7 separate regions of the Homo sapiens genome follow, and all the other regions are reported to be linked to region 1. The links are microRNA targets in miRTarBase. Many come from high-throughput screens and were not tested one by one. Region 1 holds a microRNA gene; each other region holds the end of a gene's coding sequence.
Evidence for each region. Region 1 holds the annotated microRNA hsa-miR-377-5p (AGAGGUUGCCCUUGGUGAAUUC, at 904-925, opposite strand). A microRNA usually pairs through its seed, bases 2 to 8, with sites in the 3' UTR of a target mRNA and lowers its output. Matches are read on the target gene's strand: a 7mer-m8 pairs with bases 2 to 8, a 7mer-A1 pairs with bases 2 to 7 and ends in A, and an 8mer does both.

Region 2: miRTarBase lists SNRPD1 as a target of hsa-miR-377-5p. Seed matches in the 3' UTR shown: 7mer-m8 at 564-570.
Region 3: miRTarBase lists MPZL3 as a target of hsa-miR-377-5p. Seed matches in the 3' UTR shown: 8mer at 1,074-1,081, 7mer-m8 at 1,376-1,382 and 7mer-A1 at 2,397-2,403.
Region 4: miRTarBase lists INTS7 as a target of hsa-miR-377-5p. The part of its 3' UTR that is shown has no 7-base or 8-base seed match.
Region 5: the mRNA of CLCC1 is a reported target of hsa-miR-377-5p. Seed matches in the 3' UTR shown: 7mer-m8 at 2,858-2,864.
Region 6: the mRNA of MRPS14 is a reported target of hsa-miR-377-5p. The part of its 3' UTR that is shown has no 7-base or 8-base seed match.
Region 7: the mRNA of AP3S2 is a reported target of hsa-miR-377-5p. Seed matches in the 3' UTR shown: 7mer-m8 at 1,295-1,301.

The regions. Positions count from the first base shown.
Region 1 is chr14:101,059,885-101,062,980 of GRCh38, reverse strand. MIR377 (microRNA 377) reads right to left here and starts at 931; the gene lies at 863-931. It overlaps MIR496 (microRNA 496), which reads right to left and starts at 2,408; the gene lies at 2,307-2,408.
Region 2 is chr18:21,628,682-21,631,777 of GRCh38, reverse strand. It overlaps SNRPD1 (small nuclear ribonucleoprotein D1 polypeptide), which reads right to left. Exons shown (of 4, transcript NM_006938.4): 4 at 1-2,716. The coding sequence ends at 2,640. Among named protein-coding and RNA genes, the nearest start is that of SNRPD1, 18 kb to the right of the region's middle.
Region 3 is chr11:118,227,346-118,230,441 of GRCh38, reverse strand. It overlaps MPZL3 (myelin protein zero like 3), which reads left to right. Exons shown (of 6, transcript NM_198275.3): 6 at 522-3,096. The coding sequence ends at 548. Among named protein-coding and RNA genes, the nearest start is that of JAML, 3.9 kb to the right of the region's middle.
Region 4 is chr1:211,939,248-211,942,247 of GRCh38, forward strand. INTS7 (integrator complex subunit 7) reads right to left here. Exons shown (of 20, transcript NM_015434.4): 20 at 1,156-2,864. The coding sequence ends at 2,577. Among named protein-coding and RNA genes, the nearest start is that of INTS7, 95 kb to the right of the region's middle.
Region 5 is chr1:108,931,975-108,935,070 of GRCh38, reverse strand. CLCC1 (chloride channel CLIC like 1) reads left to right here. Exons shown (of 13, transcript NM_001377458.1): 12 at 129-446; 13 at 2,570-3,096. The coding sequence ends at 401. It overlaps GPSM2 (G protein signaling modulator 2), which reads right to left. Exons shown (of 15, transcript NM_013296.5): 15 at 526-3,096. Among named protein-coding and RNA genes, the nearest start is that of CLCC1, 30 kb to the left of the region's middle.
Region 6 is chr1:175,012,177-175,015,272 of GRCh38, reverse strand. It overlaps MRPS14 (mitochondrial ribosomal protein S14), which reads left to right. Exons shown (of 3, transcript NM_022100.3): 3 at 422-2,315. The coding sequence ends at 604. Among named protein-coding and RNA genes, the nearest start is that of MRPS14, 9.7 kb to the left of the region's middle. RefSeq lists a silencer at 2,414-2,614.
Region 7 is chr15:89,833,038-89,836,133 of GRCh38, reverse strand. It overlaps AP3S2 (adaptor related protein complex 3 subunit sigma 2), which reads left to right. Exons shown (of 6, transcript NM_005829.5): 6 at 491-3,096. The coding sequence ends at 619. It overlaps ARPIN-AP3S2 (ARPIN-AP3S2 readthrough), which reads left to right. Exons shown (of 10, transcript NM_001199058.2): 10 at 491-3,096. The coding sequence ends at 619. It overlaps LOC124903552 (a long non-coding RNA gene), which reads right to left and starts at 225. Exons shown (of 2, transcript XR_007064754.1): 1 at 1-225.

The DNA.
Region 1 (3,096 bases):
TTCTCTTATTTCCCTTGTTATTTTCCCCAAATCATTTTCATTAGGATCAATTTTTTCCATTTAAAAATCTGCATGAAGATTTGATTCCTCAATGTGTTCTTGTCTACATCAAATATCACTGTTTATCACCGCCGCCACCGTGAATTTCCTTCCATGGCTGCCACGTCGGCAGCTTGCTATTTCCCCAGGTCAAATGTCACAGCTGAAATGTTGTCAAGAAAATTGGATTCCTCTGCCAATTTGTAGTCAACTGAACACATTTAGCACTGTGCCGTTTCAGCTGTTTTTAGTTTTATTTTGTGTTGATTATTTTTATCAGTATTATTTAATACAAATGGGATGAGATACTGATAGCCTCTATTTGTTTCATAACCCAGGAGAAAATTGGGAACAATGTTTGGTTGGGGGATAGAAAGAGAAAGATAGAGACAAGGAAAGGTGCAGAAAGAAGCACAGTGCTTGTGAGCTAGACGGGGGTCTGGGGCTGCAGACTCGTCACAGACCCTGCCAAGTGTGAGCTCTTTGTGTATCCGCGAGGTCAAATACCTTCCGAAAAAAAAATGGTGGAGTCAAAATGTCTTTGGGATCAACACAGCCAAAATGGTGATGTAAAGAGACAGGGTCCAGGGTAAGAGCTAAAGCCGACGCGACACCAACGCCATCCTCCCCGGGCCGCGAGCCCCGCCCCCATCATGAATGAAGCTTGTGTTCTCTGAGCGACATCTGTTCTCATCCACCGCAGAGGACCGCAGAGGGCAGACCACCCACGTCTACCCCGTCCATTCTTGCTCACGGGAGGGGTGTAGATGCCCCTGAGCTTGCCACTGGGTCCCGGAAGCCATCCCAAGCAGGATTTGATACTCAAACAAAAGTTGCCTTTGTGTGATTCAACATAAATAAAGCGAATTCACCAAGGGCAACCTCTGCTCAAGGGTCAAACATCAGCACGGGCAAGAACACACCGAGATGCCTCTTCACCAAAGGCGGCATTGCCTGCGGGACCTCCCTGCTGACTCCAGCTGCAGGCTCGCTGGCTTGCTGGCTCGCTCTCTCCCCTCTTGCTCTCTCTCTCTCTCTACCTCCGAGAAGCCCCCCAGGCAGTGGTCAGAACATGGTTGGTCATGGACCAGCTTCTGTAGCCCTGGAGCAGGCAGTGGGGGCGAGGCTATGCACACACACATCACAGGTCAGCCCGAGCTAGAGTCAGCCCCTGGTCACCTACCCTAGAGGGGCTGGAACACCAAGGTCCACCTCCAGAGCCGGTATCTCCTCTGGAAGTCTCTGAAGCAGGATTTCACACAGAGAAGGGGGCTGCCAATGAACCATGTGACCGTGTTCAGTCCAGCCTACAGGGGTTTGAGGGAGGACCCGACCTGAAGGCTGGCGACTCCTCGTCCAGCGCAGCATCCTCAGAGGGTGGGTGGGGCTGCGTCACAGGGACAGCACAGGCTCAGGTGACTGTACTCCATGCACTCCATTCCAGGAGGCCTCAAAGAGAGTTCAACCAAGAAAACAGGTCACGCTGCCTATTCATTCATTCAGCATCACACCTACTGTGCACATCTGGCGACACAGCACCAGGCAAAACAGACAAGGACTCTGCCCTCAGGGAGCTTCCATTCTAGTGGCGAGAGGACAATGAGTGCAGATGACATAACATTCATATAATGACCATCCTCAGAAACAATGCTTATCCTACAGCCACGTGCCAGACGCTGTCTAGACACTTCACAAAGAGCACGTTTCCACTCCGCTGTTAACCCTGCTTTACAGAGGAAGAGACTGAGGCCCAGAGAGCTGATAGGTGAAGGGATTTTCCAAGGGCACACAGCTGGCAACATAAGGTAGTAATAAATGCTATTAACAATTCTCGTCTTGCAGTAGGAATAACCGAGTCGTGCCATGGAAATGTGTCTTTAAACAACATTAATTCTCACTGCTGAGGAAACCCCCTTCACCCCTTGCTTCCCAGAGGTCACCCAGAAGATAAGGTATTTGAGGGCGTAATGTGGATGTCTTCCATTCAGCCAGGAGTTCCTTTCCCTAAAGTGTGCCACACAGCCAAGATGATTTCACACCTAAAAAGGTTGACTAAATGTGGTTTATTCACTGACGAGTCTTCAAGGATGCGACTAGAAGACCACCATGTCAACTAAAACGTCAGCATCATTTCGGGGAATTCCTCCTAATGATGGCCGGGATATGAGCCAAGTGATGTAAGTCACACAGAGAGCACCTGTCATGCGGAGGTGATCCACTTCCTTACCCTGCGCAGGTGCCGGCTGGGCTTTCCCCTCGTGACGTTTCCCAAGAAGAATTGAGTACCGAAAGGAGATTGGCCATGTAATACTCATCATAAATAAAATGAACACACCATGGACAACCTCCATTCGAGTACCTGACTTGGGTGCTCGCTTCCAGCGCGTCCCAGCAGCAGGCCTGAGGACGGACGGGATACTGAGAGTCAGGAAGGTGGCAACACACCACCCACGAAATAAGCTCTGCGGTCCGGGCCGCACTCCATCCCTTACTTGCAATTAGCACCTCTTGCAGGAAGCCATTCAGGGAGGGAAGTGCCACAGCAGAGAGGTCTGCAGAGCACCATCTGTGATACATGAAGAGAGGGCAGCAGGGAAGACAGCAAGACGGTGTCTTGTCAAACATGCAGTGAGCCGATGAGGGAACTGCCGCCTCTTTCGAGGAAACTGCCATGGTAAGCAAGCAGGACGCCTGCAGGTGCACGACCCACCAAGAAGAGTGTGCACACTGTCAGCTTCGCCGTGCGTTCAGGCATTCAGACACCAGTTCTAGTTCCTAAACTCGGCACCACCCGAGGGTGCTTTAAGGCTAGATTTAATGCTTTCAAAAGAGTCCACTATGTAGGATTGGTCAAAAAATAAATCGAATGCATCATGGAAGACCTCTCCACCAGTACCACAGAGTAGCTCTGATAGGAAAAGCTCCACTTCTTCCCCAAAGGTGGCACCATCTCTAGAAACCTCCCCAAGGACGGGGCACACACAGGGTTAGGGCCAGGGCACACTGCTGGGTCGGCTATGGTCAATGGTCCCCTTCCTTACCCTGGAGAGGAGCTGA
Region 2 (3,096 bases), not on the chromosome of region 1:
ATCCAGTTATTTATTCCCCCAGCTTATTAATTAATGAAAGGTATAGGCCGGGGACGCACGGTGGCTCACGCCTGTAATCCCAGCACATTGGGAGGCCTCGTGCAGATCATGAGGTCAGGAGAACGAGACCATCCTAACACAGTGAAACCCCGTCTCTACTAAAAAGACAAAAAATTAGCTGGGTGTGGTGGCAGGCACCTGTAGTCCCAGCTACTCGGGAGGCTGAGGCAGGAGAATGGCCTGAACCCGGGAGGCAGAGCTTGCAGTGAGCCAAGATCGCGCCACTGTACTCCAGCCTGGGCAACAGAGCAAGACTGTCTCCAGAAAAAAAAAAAAAAAAAAAAAAAAAACGTGTGGAGAAAAATTACATATTGGTTGTATCTTGTCAAGCCAACTCACCTTTAATATATTTACTATTAAAGAATTGTCTTAAGTCTGGCCAACATGGTGAAACCCCGTCTCTACTAAAAATACAAAAAAATTAGCTGGGTGTGGTGGCGCACGCTTATAATCCCAGCTACTCTGGAGGCTGAGGCACAATAATCTCTTGAACCCGGGACGCAGAGGTTGCAGTGAGCCAAGATCGCACCACTGCACTCCAGCCTGGGTGACACAGCAAGACTCTGTCTCAAAAGAAAGAAAGAAAAAATTGTCTTAATCATCATGAATTTCATACATCCCTTTTTGGATCATAGAACCTGTAATACAACTGGGTGACCACTGCCAATAATTTGTGGGGGAAAAAACGCTAATTACTATATAACTTCAATGACTTACAAAAAAAAATTATCAACTGTGGAAAAATCAAAAAGCATTTGAATTTACTTGATGAGGTAAGATACTTAAAAAAATATATATCTAGTATTTATTTATACCAATATATACATTTATATATCTAATATATATGACAGGTACATTCTACATGTATACTAATATATCTATTAGTATATATTTATATATTAGTATAAATACATATATATATAAATACATATATATATCTCTCTCTCGATTTTTTTTTGAGACGTAGTCTCACTCCATCGCCCAGGCTGGAGTGCAGTGGCACAATCTCGGCTCACTGCAACCTCCGCCTCCTGGGTTCAAGCAATTCTCCTGCCTCGGCCTCATGAGTAGCTGGGATTACAGGCGCCTGTCACTGCACCTGGCTAACTTTTGTATTTTTAGTAGAAATGGGGTTTCACCCTCTTGGCCAAGCTGGTCTTCAACTCCTGACCTCGTGATCCACCTGCCTCGGCCTCCCAAAGTGCTGGGATTACAGGCGTGAGCCACCACACCCAGGCTAAACTTTTTTAAGGTAACGATCTTTGCAGAAAATTTCTTTACTTAAAAAAAAAAAAACTCACATACATGATGAAAATACAGATTTAAGCCACCCACATCCTCAGTTGTTTTCCTTAGCATATAAATACTTCGTAGTAAGCTTTACAAAGAACTGATGCACTGAGAGACATTTTTTCTGAGCTTAGCAAATCAAAAACAATTTTTAAAAGTCCTTATTAACAATTAGAACAGTTTTGCTGTCAAATAAAGTAGGTCTTTTCTCTTTTATTCTCAAAGAACCCCTTAATAAAGGAGGCACTGACAGGTACATTACACATTAATAGGAGATTTTAACACTGCTCATAACTGATAATCTAGTGACCATTAACTCCAAGTTATAACTTGGAAAACATAAAACTATATCCTATTAAGAACTGATTAAAAAGCAAAAGAAACAAAAGTAAGACATTAGCAGCTAGACAACAAAGCAATGACCCTTAATTTAGAAGACAACTTTTTACCAGGTACCTAAGACTCCGTGGAGTAAAACTCAGGAAAGGAGAATCAATTCTAGACCCCATCCCATAAGGACTTTAGTTTCCGAAATACCAAAACAAACTTCTTACTTCCCCTGTGGGTAGGTGCCACAGAATGAAGAGTAAAGCAATAAAATGCATATTCAGTGCATGTGAAGTAGAAGGGTATATATCCTATATATATTGTTAAGTTTAGCCTAAAGTCTCTTTACATATCTCAAGTTCAGCTTAAAGGTTTCTCAGTACATAGAACTGTAGCCTAACTGGACGTGTAAACAGACGGTACCCTACTCTTGTGGCAATCACTAAGTTTCAGCCAACCAAAGACAGCGAACTGTTCAAACCATATTCAAATAAGGCAAACGCTGAACTGTAACTAATCCGGCTGTTGCTGTATCTCACTTCCATTTTCCATACATCACTTTCCTTCTGTCCATAAATCTTCAACTATGCAGCTGGGCTGAAGCCTCTGAGCCTATTATGGTTCAGGGGCTACCTGATTTGTGAATTGTCCTTTGCTCAATTAAACTCTGCCAAATTTAATTTGTCTAAGGCTTTTATTTTAACCTTATTCATCATAAAAAGAAAAAGAAAAATTTTAGTTCAAAAACTTAAAACCTGATCAACTAAAAATGAAACTGCCCAGTAGAAATGCTTAGCTCTCACTGTGGTAATTTCGTGAATGTGGAGGAAACTACTAAAACTTTGATATACTAAATAGACAGCTCTGTCCCACATTTATGTTTATTAAAAACTGACATAAACAAACACAACCTGTACAAAAAATATCCCAAATCTCATATGACTTTGAAATCTTGAGAGACATTATCGCCTAGGACCCCCTCTTCCTCTGCCACGGCCACGTCCTCTTCCTCTTCCTCTTCCTCTGCCTCTTCCTGCAACTGAAGGAAAAGAAAAACAAACCAAGTTCAATTCTCTCCTGCACCAATGTTACCTAGACACCACAAACAACATTTACACACACACCTTTCCCTGTTTATAGCTCTTTATTAGTAGCTACAGTAAATAAAGTTTAACTAGCTTCTGTTAAATGTGTTAGACTTCAGATTCCCTCCACCCCCCAACACATTATCATGCAGAACCAATAACTAAAGGCCTAGGGAGATTATTATTTGTTTCATTTCAATTTATTTACTAAGAAATGTGTCAAATTTAAAAATACTTTTTCTTTATATCATGTCTCAAATTCACCATAAAATGATTTGAACCTCACAAAAAAAGGGAAGATATATATCACAGAATAAAACATGATCACCTTGAT
Region 3 (3,096 bases), not on the chromosome of region 1:
ATTCAATTCTCATAACAGTTCTATGAGGTGTATTTTTATTATCCCCATTTTACAGATGAGGAAACTGAGGCTTAGAGAAGTTAATAACTTTATCCAAGGTCACACAGCCACAAGAGGTGGAACTCAGTGGTAGACTGACACTTAGTCTAAATTCCTAACCACAATTTTGCACATTTCTGCAAGAGAGTGAGGAGAGGATCGCTGGGGTGATTCCACTGACACTTGTTTTGCTAAGAAAGGGTGCGGTAGGCGGGCATCTTTTCTTGTGTGTTGAGGTTCTAAAAAATATTCACCAAGGGAAAGGAAACCACTAGGGCTTCAAAGCAGAAATTAGCCCAATAGACACCAATTATATTGAGGTCCTGTGAAGCTCCGTGGGAATTTAGGTGTATTGAGTCAGTGGCATTTCACTGTGGCTGTCTCCCCAAGCCAGGTTCCATTTGGAGGATCCTAACATGTGGTCTTTGCCTAAATTCCAACTCTGGAATTGTGTTTCACACCTGCTGTTTTGCTCCCTCCAGGATTCAGACTATGAAGAGACATATTGATGAAAGTCTGTATGACACAAGAAGAGTCACCTAAAGACAGGAAACATCCCATTCCACTGGCAGCTAAAGCCTGTCAGAGAAAGTGGAGCTGGCCTGGACCATAGCGATGGACAATCCTGGAGATCATCAGTAAAGACTTTAGGAACCACTTATTTATTGAATAAATGTTCTTGTTGTATTTATAAACTGTTCAGGAACTCTCATAAGAGACTCATGACTTCCCCTTTCAATGAATTATGCTGTAATTGAATGAAGAAATTCTTTTCCTGAGCAAAAAGATACTTTTTGATTCATCTTTGCTCTGGAATGTATTACATGTTTTCTTCCAACTGTTTGAAGGAGAATTTTGAATGTTTGCCACACCGCTGATACCCAAATAATTTTTTAAATGAAGTGGAGCTTGTGGCTTCCTGATGTGTCACCAGACAAAATATTCGCTTGGGATATGTATTCTTTGTTTTTTGCTCCATGTACACTTTCAGCTGTGAGTTAGTATAGGGCGTATACTTACCGGTTTAATGACCTCAACCTCAGTTGTGTTTGGATAACTTAGGGTGTATACCCTTAGTTTCCTTAGAGTTGGTAGGATCAAGTCATTGGTTTGCTTTGACTGGGTTTTTAAAGTATTAAGTACAGTGTCATCAATTTACAGTTAAGGAAAGGAATCGTGAAGTAGAAAAATTATTTTCTTTAGTCTTGCTGGTACAATTTGGGCTAAGGAGTCTTTGTTATTTTCTGTCTTGCTTTTTTTTTTTTTTTTTTTTTTTTGAGGCAGAGTCTCACTCTGTCGCCAGGCTGGAGTGCAGTGGTGTGATCTTGGCTCACTGCAACCTCTGCCTCCTGGGTTCAAGCGATTCTTGTGCCTCAGCCTCTCGAGTAGCTGGGATTACAGGCATGCGCCACCACACCCAGCTAATTTTTGTGTTTTTAGTAGAGACGGGGTTTCACCATTTTGGCCAGGATGGTCTCAATCCCCTGACCTCGTGATCCACCTGCCTCGGCCTCCCAAAGTGTTGGGATTACAGGCATGAGCCACTGTGCTTGGCCTGTTATTTTATTTTCTTATAACTACAACTTTTCTTCTTGAATTTTCAGGTCAGAGGCAAGAAAAACTCTTTACAGGTTTTTAGTGGGGGGCTTATGGAGTATTTCAGGAGTTCTTTGCAAATTAAATCATCTTTTCACTTGTATTGTTTTTCAAAACTTTGTTGATTTCTAAAATGTGCCAACTGTGAGTAAACTATGGTATTTGCAAGTGGTTTTTACATAATATTTGAGATGAGGAAGTGAGATTGTGCATGACATACTTCTCCTTTGTATTCTCTCAGTGCCTTACAGCAGGTTACTCCATTCTGCTATGACAACTTGTTTCAAATGTTAATTTACATAGGATTTTTTATAAGCCATTAAGGCATATGTATAGTATATCAGTAAAGATGGATGGTGCATATATAAATAGTCTTCTGTAATAGTGATTGGATTTACTTCTCAATTATGAGAGACAAAAATTATCCCCTCACCTGTCTCTATTCTTTCAACAGGTTGATCCCTTTTCATGATTTTTCATTAGGTGGTTCAGGAAGTTTCCATATTACAGCGCTTCAGACTGTATATGTTAGTTTAAAAATCACTTTTCTCTCTCTCAACTTCTTTCTTTTTTTTTTGAAGACTTAATTTAAAAAATTTGGGTTGTTAGATCCGTATCATAGATTTGGCCTAGCCTCTTCTGTTAACCTAGTCCACAGATGAGCGAATCTGGTTAGTTGAAGGACATTGTGATTTGACTCTGGTCACGCGAGGAAGTAGAAGGGCAAAGACAGGACCGGCAGTTTACATTTCCAGTGGTTAAACCTCACGGTACTTTGGGACTGCTTGTTAACTTTTGTGGTTGTCTGAGGCCAATCTAACGTGACCATTTCTGACACCTCAACAGAGAGAGGAAAGCAACTTGAGCAATGAGAGTAAATAACTTGGGCTCTCAGAGATTTGAAGATAGAGATCTCATTGTGAGGGGGACTATTTTGCAGGTCCTCATTTCTCCAAGAAAGAGATGGTGTTACAGGAACCCACTGAAAGCCATATCCCATTAAATGAGGAACTAATTTTGGCTGGGCCTTCTTGTAATGTCCTCGCAGGTGTGTTGTGAAGATTAATGCAGGGTAGTATGTTTGTAGATTGACACCTAGTCTAAACTTGAGGTAATTGGTGCTCTGTGAATACTCAGTCGTGTTCTTTTATAGCCTTAATCATGATTTGAACTAGTCCCTTGCTTTTTAAATGACTGAATGAAGTCCTTCGTGGTAAGGGAGTACGTTGATAACTTAGTTTACTATATGGGTTTGTGGTCGCATCCCAGTCATCAGCTGCTATCATTTTCCTTCTTCATCCCTTATACTGAGATTTGGGTTACAGCTTTTTATTCTTCGAAGGATCACAAAGCAGTGTACAGACACCTGCCTTCTTTAAGGATGAAAGGAAGATAAAGTGGTCTTTTTTTGTTTACTTATTTGTTTCACCTCTTGTTTGAGTAACTTCTAAGGTGCTATTC
Region 4 (3,000 bases), not on the chromosome of region 1:
CTGAACTTCTTGGACTTGCTTTTATTTTAATAATTCCTGGCCAGGCACGGTGGCTCACACCTGTAATCCTAGCACTTTGGGAGGCCAAGACGGGCGATCACCAGAGTTTGGGACCATCCTGGCCAACATGGTGAAACCCATCTCTACTAAAAAATATAAAAACTAACCAGGCGTGGTGGCACATGCCTGTAATCCCAGCTACTCGGGAGACTGAGGCAGGAGAATCACCGGAGCCTGGGAGGTAGAGGTTGCAGTGAGCTGAGATTGCACCACTGCACTCCAGCCTGGGCAACAGAGCGAGACTCTGTCTCAAAAAAAAAAAAAAAAAATTCCTTTCTGAGTTTGTGCCAGGAGCCCATAATACACCAAGTTAAAAAGTTCATAAACATAGCTATCAAAACCTATCTTTTAAGAACATAACATTTGGGAAGTTCTCAAAGGGAATTGATGGCTTACAAGATTTGCTTCTTTTTTGGAGAAATCTACCTTGAATGGCACCAGAAGCTTGAAATCCACATTGTAAACTTTAACCCTGAAAATAGCCACTTAATTACAAATAAAAAAGATCTCCAATTTAAGAAATGTTTTTGTTTGTTTTTAGTCTTTCAGTCACTTGATAATACAACTCTAGGCTGGAATCCAGAAAACCAGTCTAATTCAGTCACTTGACAGACAAAAAAAAAAACCCCTAAGATGTAGAGGTAAAGTGACTTGCTTGGTCACACAGCTAATTCACCAGAACCAAGAGTGAAACCCAGGCTTTCTGATTCAGCTGTTTCCACACCTGGTAAAAGAACAAGGGGTTCTGCACTGCTCTGGCAATTTTTCCTAAGCACGTGTTCCCAGGTGCTGAGATGACTGTGTAGGTTGTGTGAACCTCATACAACTGGGCTGCATCTGAAGAGATGTCATTCAACCGTGGACACTGTAGATCTGTACACATTTTATGAGAATGTTCTGGCTGTTAGCAGTACAATGGGTTGTGCTCATGAAGGCAAGCAATCTTGGAGAGACCCAAGTTGCAAATCACTTCTCAGTCCCAGAGGCCGCATGACAAGAAAGAAAAAAAAAACAACAACCCCTTTTTATTTTTTATCTTAAGCTCCATTCTCCTTTGAATTAATGTTGACTTTGAAGAGAAAAAGGCAAAACACAAGCAAAGAAACAGATATTTATTTAAAAAGGAAATTCCAGGGAAAGTACCCTGCTTTACCTTAGGAGCTGCATCCGGCCAAATTACTTATAGCATCGGCATCTGCAACCATATGATCCCTGATGTTTAGAAATCGTGATCCTGAAGCCCTAAATGATCCCCAATCAAAAAGCAGTTAAGTTATATCTACCATACTGTGCTAAGAAAGTCTATTTTATCATGGTTTTCAACCAGAATTAAAATAGGAAAAAAGGGGGTTTTCTGGCTAACCAGAAAACTCTGTTCCCTGAGCATCCCAACAAACTGAGCCTGTGTAATAAAGAGACTGCTCTCTCTAAACAATCAGTCTAGCATAACTCATCAAGTATAAACCAAACCAATCACCAACCAAAGGAAAAGATCCACCCCTTCTAACTTAAAACATTGAAGATATTAAATGAGTGTTCTTCACTTTTGGAAACAATGTGAAATGTCTGTATTATACACAGTTGCAGACACATCAGAAAAAACAAATTAATTTTCTATGAAATTGCTAGCTGCTCTTTGTTTCAATTAAATATGAAAATAATAAAGACTGCTTTAGCACAGGAAGAGATAAATATGTGGTTGAACTAATACAGCAGGATGTTTCAATACTGTTAGACTGTGGGCTTTCATAATCCAGAAGGCTGGATGTTGCACGGAACACTTTCAAGTCCATCTACAGAAGGACTCAGGTTCTGCTACCATGGATAAACCTTGTAGTGACTGGTCAGAACCTCCCAATGAACAACTCAGAATCCTAGGTCTAAGTCAGGCAGCAAATGATGTATTTTGGAAGAGTAGCGGTCAAATTTACCAATTCAGTGATCTCAACATGTGACTATTCTTGAAAGAAAAAAAAGCTTGGCAACAGAAAAAACTAATAATAAAACAAGAAAGAACAATCTTTCTGGCCAGGATCCCAGTTATTTTTCAGACAAAATGTATTTATTTATTTTTTTGAGACGGAGTCTCGCTCTGTCGCCCAGGCTGGAGCACAGTCTCGGCTCACTGCAAGCTCCGCCTCCCAGGTTCACACCATTCTCCTGCCTCAGCCTCCCAAGTAGCTGGGACTACAGGCGCCTGCCACCATGCTTGGCTAATTTTTTTGTATTTTTTAGTGGAGACGGGGTTTCACTGTGTTAGCCAGGATGGTCTTGATCTCCTCGTGAGCCGCCCACCTCAGCCTCCCAAAGTGCTGGGATTACAGGCGTGAGCAACCACGCCCAGCTGTCAGACAAAATTTTTAAGAAAACAAAATTTTTTCCAGAATATTACATTACAAAAATCAATGAATAAATGAACTACACTGTAACTTTAATACTTATTCCATATGAAAAACCAAACTGTTTCTGGCAATTTGATTGATCTCTTGAGAGTCTGCAGTGCATTCATTCCATGGTTAAAACCGTGTGTAGGCATTGCGTTGCTGCTGCTGCTGTAATGGCTGCTGGGCTTGCTGCTGTTGTAAGCGAATTTGCTGGGAATAAGGGTCTTCCAGGGATTTTACAAATATGGTAGTTCTGGGACCAGTCTTCCATACTATACCATTGGCATCTTTCACAGAAGATTCCACTGTAATGTTGTGTGTTCCAAGGATAGCAAAGTTCAACAGAAATTGAGTACTGAAGTAATCATTATGAGGTTCAACCCTTTGCTCCATCTCATTGGTCATGTTGTCAATGGGTATCTGCAATGAAACAATTGTTAACTAACAACAATGGCTAACATTTCTTCAGTGCTTACTATGAGTTAGGCCCTGTTCTAAGAGCTTATTTAGACCATGCAGACAATAAAAAATTAGGTACTGCTATCATCCTTGCTTC
Region 5 (3,096 bases), not on the chromosome of region 1:
CTGGACCCTGGATTTGAAAGAGTTTGGAGCTTGCTACAACGGATTTGGGTGGGAACTTTTTAGATATGTTTGATTACTAAGACTTCACATTACATTAAACAGTTAAAATGTAATTTTGTACTTTATAGCATAAATCACCTGTTTTGGATACAAAGCCCAAGGAGACAGGTGGAATCCTGGGGGAAGGCACACCGAAAGAAAGCAGTACTGAAAGCAGCCAGTCGGCCAAGCCTGTCTCTGGCCAAGACACATCAGGGAATACAGAAGGTTCACCCGCAGCGGAAAAGGCCCAGCTCAAGTCTGAAGCCGCAGGCAGCCCAGACCAAGGCAGCACATACAGCCCCGCAAGAGGTGTGGCTGGACCACGTGGACAGGATCCGGTCAGCAGCCCCTGTGGCTAGAGGAACACCAGCACAAACGACAGCCTCAAGTCTCCTTCGAGCTTTGTAAAGTATACTCTTCACTCTCTTTCTCTTCTCTGCAAGAATTCTGATTACTACAAAGGTGCCAACTTCAACATTCACATTTCAACTTCAACATTCACATTTTTACTGACAATTAGAATTAACAAACACGTTATATATGTAAAAGCTTTTCATTTCATCTTCTCTTTGATATTTACATCCCATAAAGTAAGAAGTGTTTATTTTAAGATGAACAGATGACAGGCATCACTGATTCTGGATAGTTAAGGAGGCCAGTTTGAATTGGGGACATTGAAAAAGAAATTTTATTGTTACAGGCACTTACGGGAACCCACTAACCAATTTACATTGCCTAGTGAATCCACTAGAGTTAAGGCCACCCACTTGATGCCTCCAGCATCTTCATGCAGCCATGGAGTATCGTTACCAGGATCAGTCTGACTGACACCTCAGCTTATCTCTACGCAGGCTGCCCACAGGTCACTGTGGCTGTAGTTTCATCTTTTCCACAGCTATTACTACGCCTGCATCCTTATTGTTCCTTTTACTTTGTTTACTTAGAGAAAACTGAAGACTGCCAGGGCAATTTAGATAACATAGCTTGTTATATTGGTAATCTGTTTTACAGAGTCAGTCGACTGAAAATGACTTTATTCTTTTCCCCCACCAATTGAAGTGCATGGGCTTTTTATAAAACCTATTTTTTGTGTTACTCAGAATCCTAGCAGTGGAGACTATTAGATATTACCATATCTTAATTCATATTATAGCAAATCATATTGTCTTGTCCATAGGAAGTTTGCATTTTTAGAGATCTATACATAGAGAATACCATGATGAGGAAGAAGAGAGTTGGGTGTCTTCCTTAACTGCAGACAGGACATCAGTCAGCACTTTACATTAGTCTTTCTGATTATCAAAAGCATTCCTCATTTTAAACTTTTTAAAAAGCAATGCATAAATTTTGTACCTGTCCTTAGCAGACTTCACAGACATCAGGTGTCCTTTGTTTTAACCATATTCACACTACAAGTTATGTTCAACTGCTTACTAAAAGTGATACCAGTCAGGAATAAAGTCTTTAAATTTTCATGCAGATATTTGTATCCCAAGCACTTGCTTTTTTATTTTAATATGAAATGCAGAATACACATTTTTGGATCCAGGAAGTGTTACTTACGTGCCTGTAACAATGTAATTTTAGGCCAGGTGCAGTGGCTCATGCCTACAGTCCTAGCACTTTGGAAGGTTGAGGGAGGATGATCGCTTAAGTTCAGTTGTTGAAATGCAGAATACACATTTTTGGATCCAGGAAGTGTTACTTACGTGCCTGTAACAATGTAATTTTAGGCCAGGTGCAGTGGCTCATGCCTACAGTCCTAGCACTTTGGAAGGTTGAGGGAGGATGATCGCTTAAGTTCAGTTGTTGAAATGCAGAATACACATTTTTGGATCCAGGAAGTGTTACTTACGTGCCTGTAACAATGTAATTTTAGGCCAGGTGCAGTGGCTCATGCCTACAGTCCTAGCACTTTGGAAGGTTGAGGGAGGATGATCGCTTAAGCTCAGTTGTTCAAGGCTATGTACTAAAAATAAAACTAGCCAGGCATGGTGGTACACGCCTGTAGTCCCAGCTACTTGGAGGGCTGAGGCAAGAGGATCGTGAGGTGGCAGTGAGTTATGATCGAGCCACTGTACTCCAGCCTGGGTGACAGAGCAAGACCTTGTCTCAAAATTATACATGTTAATATATTCTAGTTTAATATTGCAAACATCTTTAGAATTTCATCAGAAACGTGATTTTTTCTAAGAAATGCAAAAGGATTTTAGGATTTTTAACACAGAGGACATGTTTAACAAATGAATCCTGACAGACACCTGCAGTTTAGAATAAATTTGTGAACATCCATGCGTATAAAGTGTCCTCTTGGGACAAGACATGTTCACACTGACTTGGGGAATATGCCCCCAAGGTGAGAGCTGTCTTTTGAACTGTGATCTGACTCTGAAAAGTAGTGAATGCCCCAGGTGATAGACTGTAACTGTGAGTGGAATTAATGCTGCTTGCATGCCTTTTAATCCAAAACCAAATTCTTTTAAAAAATTTTTAAATAAAATTTCACCTTTGTATTCTTTCATTACAGATATCCATTTGGGGATGAAGTCTACTTTGACAGCTAGCAAGGCGACATGCAACTGTTGTTGAATGATGACAGCAATTCAGGAAAGACTTAAATATGAAAGCAAATTGAACACATCGGGTGTTTGTTATCAGAAAAGAGATGAGATGAGATAAGACTTGTTTATTGACTAGCCAATATGTCATTAAAATTAAGGTTTATATTGTGAAGCTTTTTTGAAATTTTACTTTTTTTTGAGAGTTTTGCTCTGTCACCCAGGCTGGAGTGAGGTGGTACAATCTCGGCTCACTGCAACCTCCACCTCCCAGGTTCAAGAGATTCTCCTGCCTCAGTCTCCCGAGTAGCTAGGATTACAGATGTGCATCACCATGCCTGGCTAATTTTTGTATTTTTTAGTAGAGATGGGGTTTCACCATGTTGGTCAGGCTGGTCTCGAACTCCTGACCTCAAGTGACCCGCCCTTGTCGGCCTCCCAAAGTGCTGGGATTACAGGCATGAGCCATTGTGCCCAGCCTATATAGTGTGAAGCT
Region 6 (3,096 bases), not on the chromosome of region 1:
ATGCAATGAACATTACCTGCCAGTGGCCAGGCGCTGTGGCTCACACCTGTAATCCTAGCACTTTGGGAGGCAGAGATGGGCGGATTGCCAGAGCTCAGGAGTTTGAGACCAGCCTGGGCAACGTGGTGAAACCCCGTTTCTACTAATAATACAAAAAATTAGCTGAGTGTGGTAGTGCACACCTGTAATCTCAGCTACTCGGGAGGCTGAGGCAGGAGAATCACTTGAACCCAGGAGGCGGAGGTTGCAGTGAGCTGAGATTGTGACATTGCACAATCTAACACCCACAGCCTGGGTGACAGAGCGAGACTCTGTCTCAAAAAAAAAAAAAAAAGAAAAGAAAATTACCTGCAAGTGAGAAGGAGCAAAATACATGTGCAACAATGTAATGTGATCTGTGTAATAATGTGATTTCCCTTAGGATGTGGCTGATGAAGAAATTGCTGCCCTCCCCCGGGATAGCTGTCCTGTTAGAATCAGAAATCGGTGTGTTATGACGTCCCGTCCGCGTGGTGTGAAGCGGCGCTGGAGGCTTAGTCGTATAGTCTTCCGTCACTTAGCTGACCATGGGCAACTTTCTGGGATCCAGCGAGCGACATGGTAAATGAGCTCCAGAACCTATTGAGCTTGCAGGGAAGCCAAGCTTGCAGTTCCAGCAAGCAAAGATTTTTTTTAATAGACCAAACCCTAATCTCTACAGGGGCCCAGTACAGTTGTTTGGCCTACCTGATGCTATCTCTAAACTACTTTTAAAATGAAGACATTTGGGTGTTTCATGTCAGTGAATTATCTTTTCTCTTGGACTTAACAAACATACTGTTCCCATACATAGTACAAAGAGTAGCATAATAAATATTTTCTGTGAATGTTTTTTATACCCTCCTTTTAAGTTTAATCTTTTAGTAACATATAGGGGTTTTTGTATTAAGAGCATTATTTCATAAAATGCTATCTTATACATAATCCAACTAATTGACATGTAGCTCATGTATGGCAGTTTGTAATCCTGGACTAGCTTTGCTGACCTGCAGAGCTCCCCTTAACTATTATTGTTAGATAAACAGATTGGATAGCAAGGCTGCTGTTCTGGATTATCTAATGCTCCACTTCTTCTTGTGATGGCTGAACAAAAGAACCACTAAGTGTTTTCTTGTCCATCCTTAAGGGACTTTAAAACAAATTATGCCTCTTTAAGTCCTTGAAAGTCTCCATCTAAAGAGGAAAAGTTTGTTGGAACAGTATATATTCCCTATTTTTATGTTTATTTAATCCATAACAGAAATGAGTAAGGGTAGCACAAAGTTCTCATTCAGTAACTCAACAGTGTGATCATCAGCCCAGTGATAAAAATATACATACTGAATGGAAGTACCTACTTAACATCAGGAAAATATTCCTGGAGAACTTAATAAATCAGGAGGTGAGGGGTGAGATTTTTTTCTGCACACAGAGGGAACAAAAGCACAAAGAAGCAAAGGCACTCTGTAGCATCAGAGAACCACAGTCACTTCAGTAGATCAGAAATATGAAGCACAAGACAAGGCCCGTATTGTGGAGGATCTCACAAATCATGTGAAGGAATTAAGACTGACATACCAGGTATTACAGAGTTTTAAGCACAGGAATGACATCATCAGTTTGTAATACAGGTAAGTGACAGCTGTGTGGCAGATGGCCATGAGAGGAAAAAGCTACAGGCAAGACAACCAGTTAGGAGGATGTCTTAGTTGTTGAGGAAGATGAAGGCCTGAACTAACATTGTGGTATTAGTAGAGGAGAGAGGACAGATTTTTAAAGTTTTAGGAAAGAAAATTGGGCAAGACTTACAAGACTGATTATATCTAAGAGGTAAAGATGGTTCTCTGGGTTCCTGATAAAAGTGTCTAGATAGATGGTAGAGGGCAATTCCAAGAGGGCAACTCCAAGATAGAAAATTTGGAAAAAGAACAAATTTAGGGGAAACAGAAGATAAGCGAGTTCAGGTTCCAGTCATGCGGTGTTGGAGATGCCTGTGTCATCTGATGAAGACTAGTACGCAGCTGGATAGCAGAGTCCGAAACTCAGGTGGAGGTGAAGTTATGAGGGAATTATCACAATCTAGTTTGGATTCATATTTCTTAAATATGTATGACAACTTACCAACTGGAATGTTCTAGCTAATATCTCAACTTAGAATCCATCTCACTACCAATGGGCAAACACTTGTGTTCTAAAGTTACTTGCAAGTAGTTTATACTGCCAACTTGATATATATACATGCTATAGTTTGAACATTTTGTGTACTTCCAAAATTCACATTAAAATCTAATCCACAATGCGTTGGTATTATTAAGAGGTGGGGCCCTTAGGGGTGATTAGGCCAGGAGGGCTCCACACTCATGGATGGGATCAGTGCCTTTCTAAGAGGGCTTGAGGGAGAGAGTTTGTCCCTTTTACCCTTCTGATACTGCGAGAAGGCACCGTACTGGAAGCAGAAAGCAAGCCCTTACCAAACACCAATCTGCTGGTGCCAAATCTTAGACTTCTCCAGCCTCCAGAAGTGCAAGAAGTAAATATTATTTATAAATTCTTAGTCTATGGCATTTTGTTACAGCAGCAGGAATAGACTAAGACAATGTGTTGATAGGTTTAGGGTCATGTTTTACTTTTTCAGTCATGTTAAATTTTAGATGGTTCTAAAGTCAAAACTCTAGAAAAAGTTAAATTCACAGAATAGCTTCCATCCTCATCTCCTTCCTTCCCCTGCTAACAATTTTTATTAGCTTTGGGTTTACTCGTTTCTTTTTGAAACATAAGCAAATACACCTATGTGCATACATTCACATTTCTCACCCTTTCTTACACAAATGTAGTGGGTATACCATAAATGTTCTGCACTTTGCTTTTCCACTTACTCTATCCTGGAGACCATTTTACGTTATATAGAACTCTTCATTGTTTTGTGACTTAAGTACTCCCTCATGTGGATGCACCATAATACATTCCTGTTAAATAGACACGAGTATTTTTAATCTTTTGCATATAGCATTCCAAATTTTTCTAAATGTACCTTTCAGAGCCCAGAAAGAAGTTAAAATTCTGGGTCAAAGGATAAAT
Region 7 (3,096 bases), not on the chromosome of region 1:
CTACTTTTGAGGAATAAGGGGGGAAAGTTAAAACTTCAGTTGTGTGTGCTCAGTTTGGAATTTTTCTAGGCATCCTTCACCTGTTATTTTGTTTGTTTGTTTGTTTGAGACAGAGTCTCACTCTGTTGCCCAGGTTGGAGTGCAGTGGCGTGATCTCAGCTCACCGCAACCTCCGCCTTCTGAGTTCAAGCGATTTTCCTGCCTCAGCCTCCCTAGTAGCTGGGACTACAGGGGCCCGCCACCACTCCTGGCCAATTTTTGTATTTTTGGTAGAGATGGGGTTTCACCATGTTGGCCAGGCCTATCTCGAACTCCTGACCTCAGGTGATCCACCCACCTCGGCCTCCCAAAGTGCTGGGATTACAGGCGTGAGCCACCACACCCATCCTGCTTGTTTGTTTTTGTTTTTGCTTTTTTTTTTTTTTTTTTTTTAGCATTAAGCAGATAACAGTGAGAATTTGTCTCATACTCGCCTCTCATTTCTTCTTAGGGTGGCCTTTCAGCAGCCCCTGCGCGGGCTGTGTCTGCTGTGAAAAACATCAACCTGCCAGAGATTCCTCGGAACATCAACATTGGCGATCTCAACATCAAAGTTCCCAACCTGTCCCAGTTTGTCTGAGGATCAAGTATTGGCCTGAAATAGAGTCCTTAAGACAAGCAAAGACAAGCAAGGCAAGCACGTCTGGAAACAGAACCCATTTTGAGCCTTAGAAGAGTCAAGCCTCAGGACCTGGAAACTTTGTGTCTGGGGAAGACTGTTTGGCATGGAATAGGGAAGGGATTCCTATTGACACTGCTCGGGTGCACCCAGTTCTCACATGTGCAGTCATGCCGTTCTCTGATGCATACGGCCACTGCAGATGTGAGGGGCCCTGCCTTCCTCAGTAGGGAGTCAACATGCCCAAGTCATTTGCACCTTTACCTCTCACATGGATGCTCCCAAGGGTTAGGGACTGCATTGAGCAGGCCCACCTGCTTCCCAGAACCTCCTCACTAGGGCTGAGCACCTTCTCTGAGTAGAGTCTTCATCCTTAGCACCACAGACTTCTGAGGTCCTGTGCCCTTTACTTGCTGGTGAGGTGTCATAGGTAGAAAAGGGCTGGCCCTTCAGATCTGGGGGTGTGGTGAGTGGCAAGTAAGGGCAGAATTTTAGGAGAACCAGAGTCACCCGCTGGCTCTACTGAGATTGTTACACCCAGAATCCTTTTGTGTTTTTTTGTGGTTTTTTTTTTTTGAGGTGGAGTCTTGCTCTGTCACCCAGGCTGGAGTGCTGTGGTGCAATCTCGGCTCACTGCAACCTCTGCTTCCCGGGTTCAAGCATTTCTCCTGTCTCAGCCTCCCCAGTAGCTGGGATTACAGGCACCCACCACCATGCCCAGCTAATTGTTGTATGTTTAGTAGAGACAGGGTTTCACCATGTTGGCCAGGCTGGGCTCGAACTCCTGGACCTCAAGTGATCTACCCGCCTTGGCCTCCCAAAGTGCTGGCATTACAGGTGTGAGCCACCGTGCCCGGCCACCAGAATCCTTTGGTATAGCCAAGCCTTTTGGTTACCGCCTCATGAAGAATATGCTTCCCGCATTGTCCTAGTCCCAGTTGTATTCTCACAGGTGTTATGTGCAGGACACAATCCAAATCATAAACCTGGCTCATGCCCAACACATTTCTGCTAATAGGGAGAGGGACCCACCACACACCCACACATGCCAGAGGTCCCTCCTCACAGAGGAGAGGGCCTGTGTCTGTAGAAGGTTAAAGCTGACAACATGTGAAACATCCCAGAATTATGACTCTTCCCAAGTTTAAAATACATTCTCCTCATGAGAGCAGAAGGTTTGTTGCTGTGTTGTGAATGATGAGCTGCCTCCATAGGGAACCCACTGCCACCTGGGCCAGCTTCTGGAGCATGAGAACCTGAGCCAGGGTCACCCTTGTGGGGCCTGGACATGACGCACGCTGGCTGCGACTAGGAGCAGGGCTGCCTCTTCTCCCTCCCCAAGGTCTGCTTGTGGGCACGCTCTGTTCCCTCAGGTGCCATTCTCCCAGGGCTTAGGCGCCCATAAATGTTCTTTCTGTGGTGGAGTAGGGCCTCCTGCTTCCATACTGTCGCATGGGCTAGATCTCAGGTGTGGTGTTGAGCCACCTTAAGATGAGGGCTGCTTCGCAGTAAAGTTTCCAGCCTGGGCCCCTCTTGGGCCTTCTGGCTGGGGACCCTCAGCCTCCTGATGCTGTTGCAGGGCAGGTCTGAGAGGGTGCCCAGCAGCACCCGGTGTCAGGGCCACCTTGTTTTCCATTTTTGAACAGCGCTCCCTGTGGTTTGTGCCCACTGCTCAATACAGCCTCCGATCCTCACTCTTGAAAGCTCCATGATAAGCACAGAGATGGGCAGTGTGGGTCAGAAGGTGGGCCGCTTCCTGTGGAAGAGGGAAGTGTAGGTGAATAGATATCAAAACCCCTGATGTCATTCTTTTGAGGGGTTGGATTTTCTTTTTTCTGGCAGACATTTCAGTACATTCACATTTCTCTCACATTTGCTGAATGTGAGATCAGAATAAAGGAGATCGGCGTTTATTTCGTACCTTCTGTAAGTTGGCATGAGCAAGATCATTCAACTGTCCTTACAACAGGCATTCTTATCCCCATTTTGCAGATGACGAAAGTAGACCCAGCTCCAGTAACCTTCCCTTAGATTACACGGGGCTGAGATCTGAGACTGTTCACTTGACTCCACTGTCCTTTTCTTTCCTCGCTGCTTAAGATGGCTTCTCCCAATGTTATCATCTTCTTTTTTATAGATAAGGAAACTGAGCCTCAGAGAGTCTGACTTCTCACAAACCGTGGTCTAAATAGGCTTGATTTTCTAAGGTGGCCAGTGATCATGTCATAGAGTATAAGAGCCAAAGAGTCGTCTGTGTCCCTCCATTTAACTGATGTTGAAGCCGAAGCCCAAGGTGGTAAATGTTATGTTGAGGGTCACAAATCCAGAGCCACATCCCTCTTCTTGAGTTCGTTTGTTACGTGGTTTAATGCATTACTGCAGGACAGCCCTTATGCTAGATTTCCTGGGATAGCCTAGATTTTGAATGTTTTGCCTGC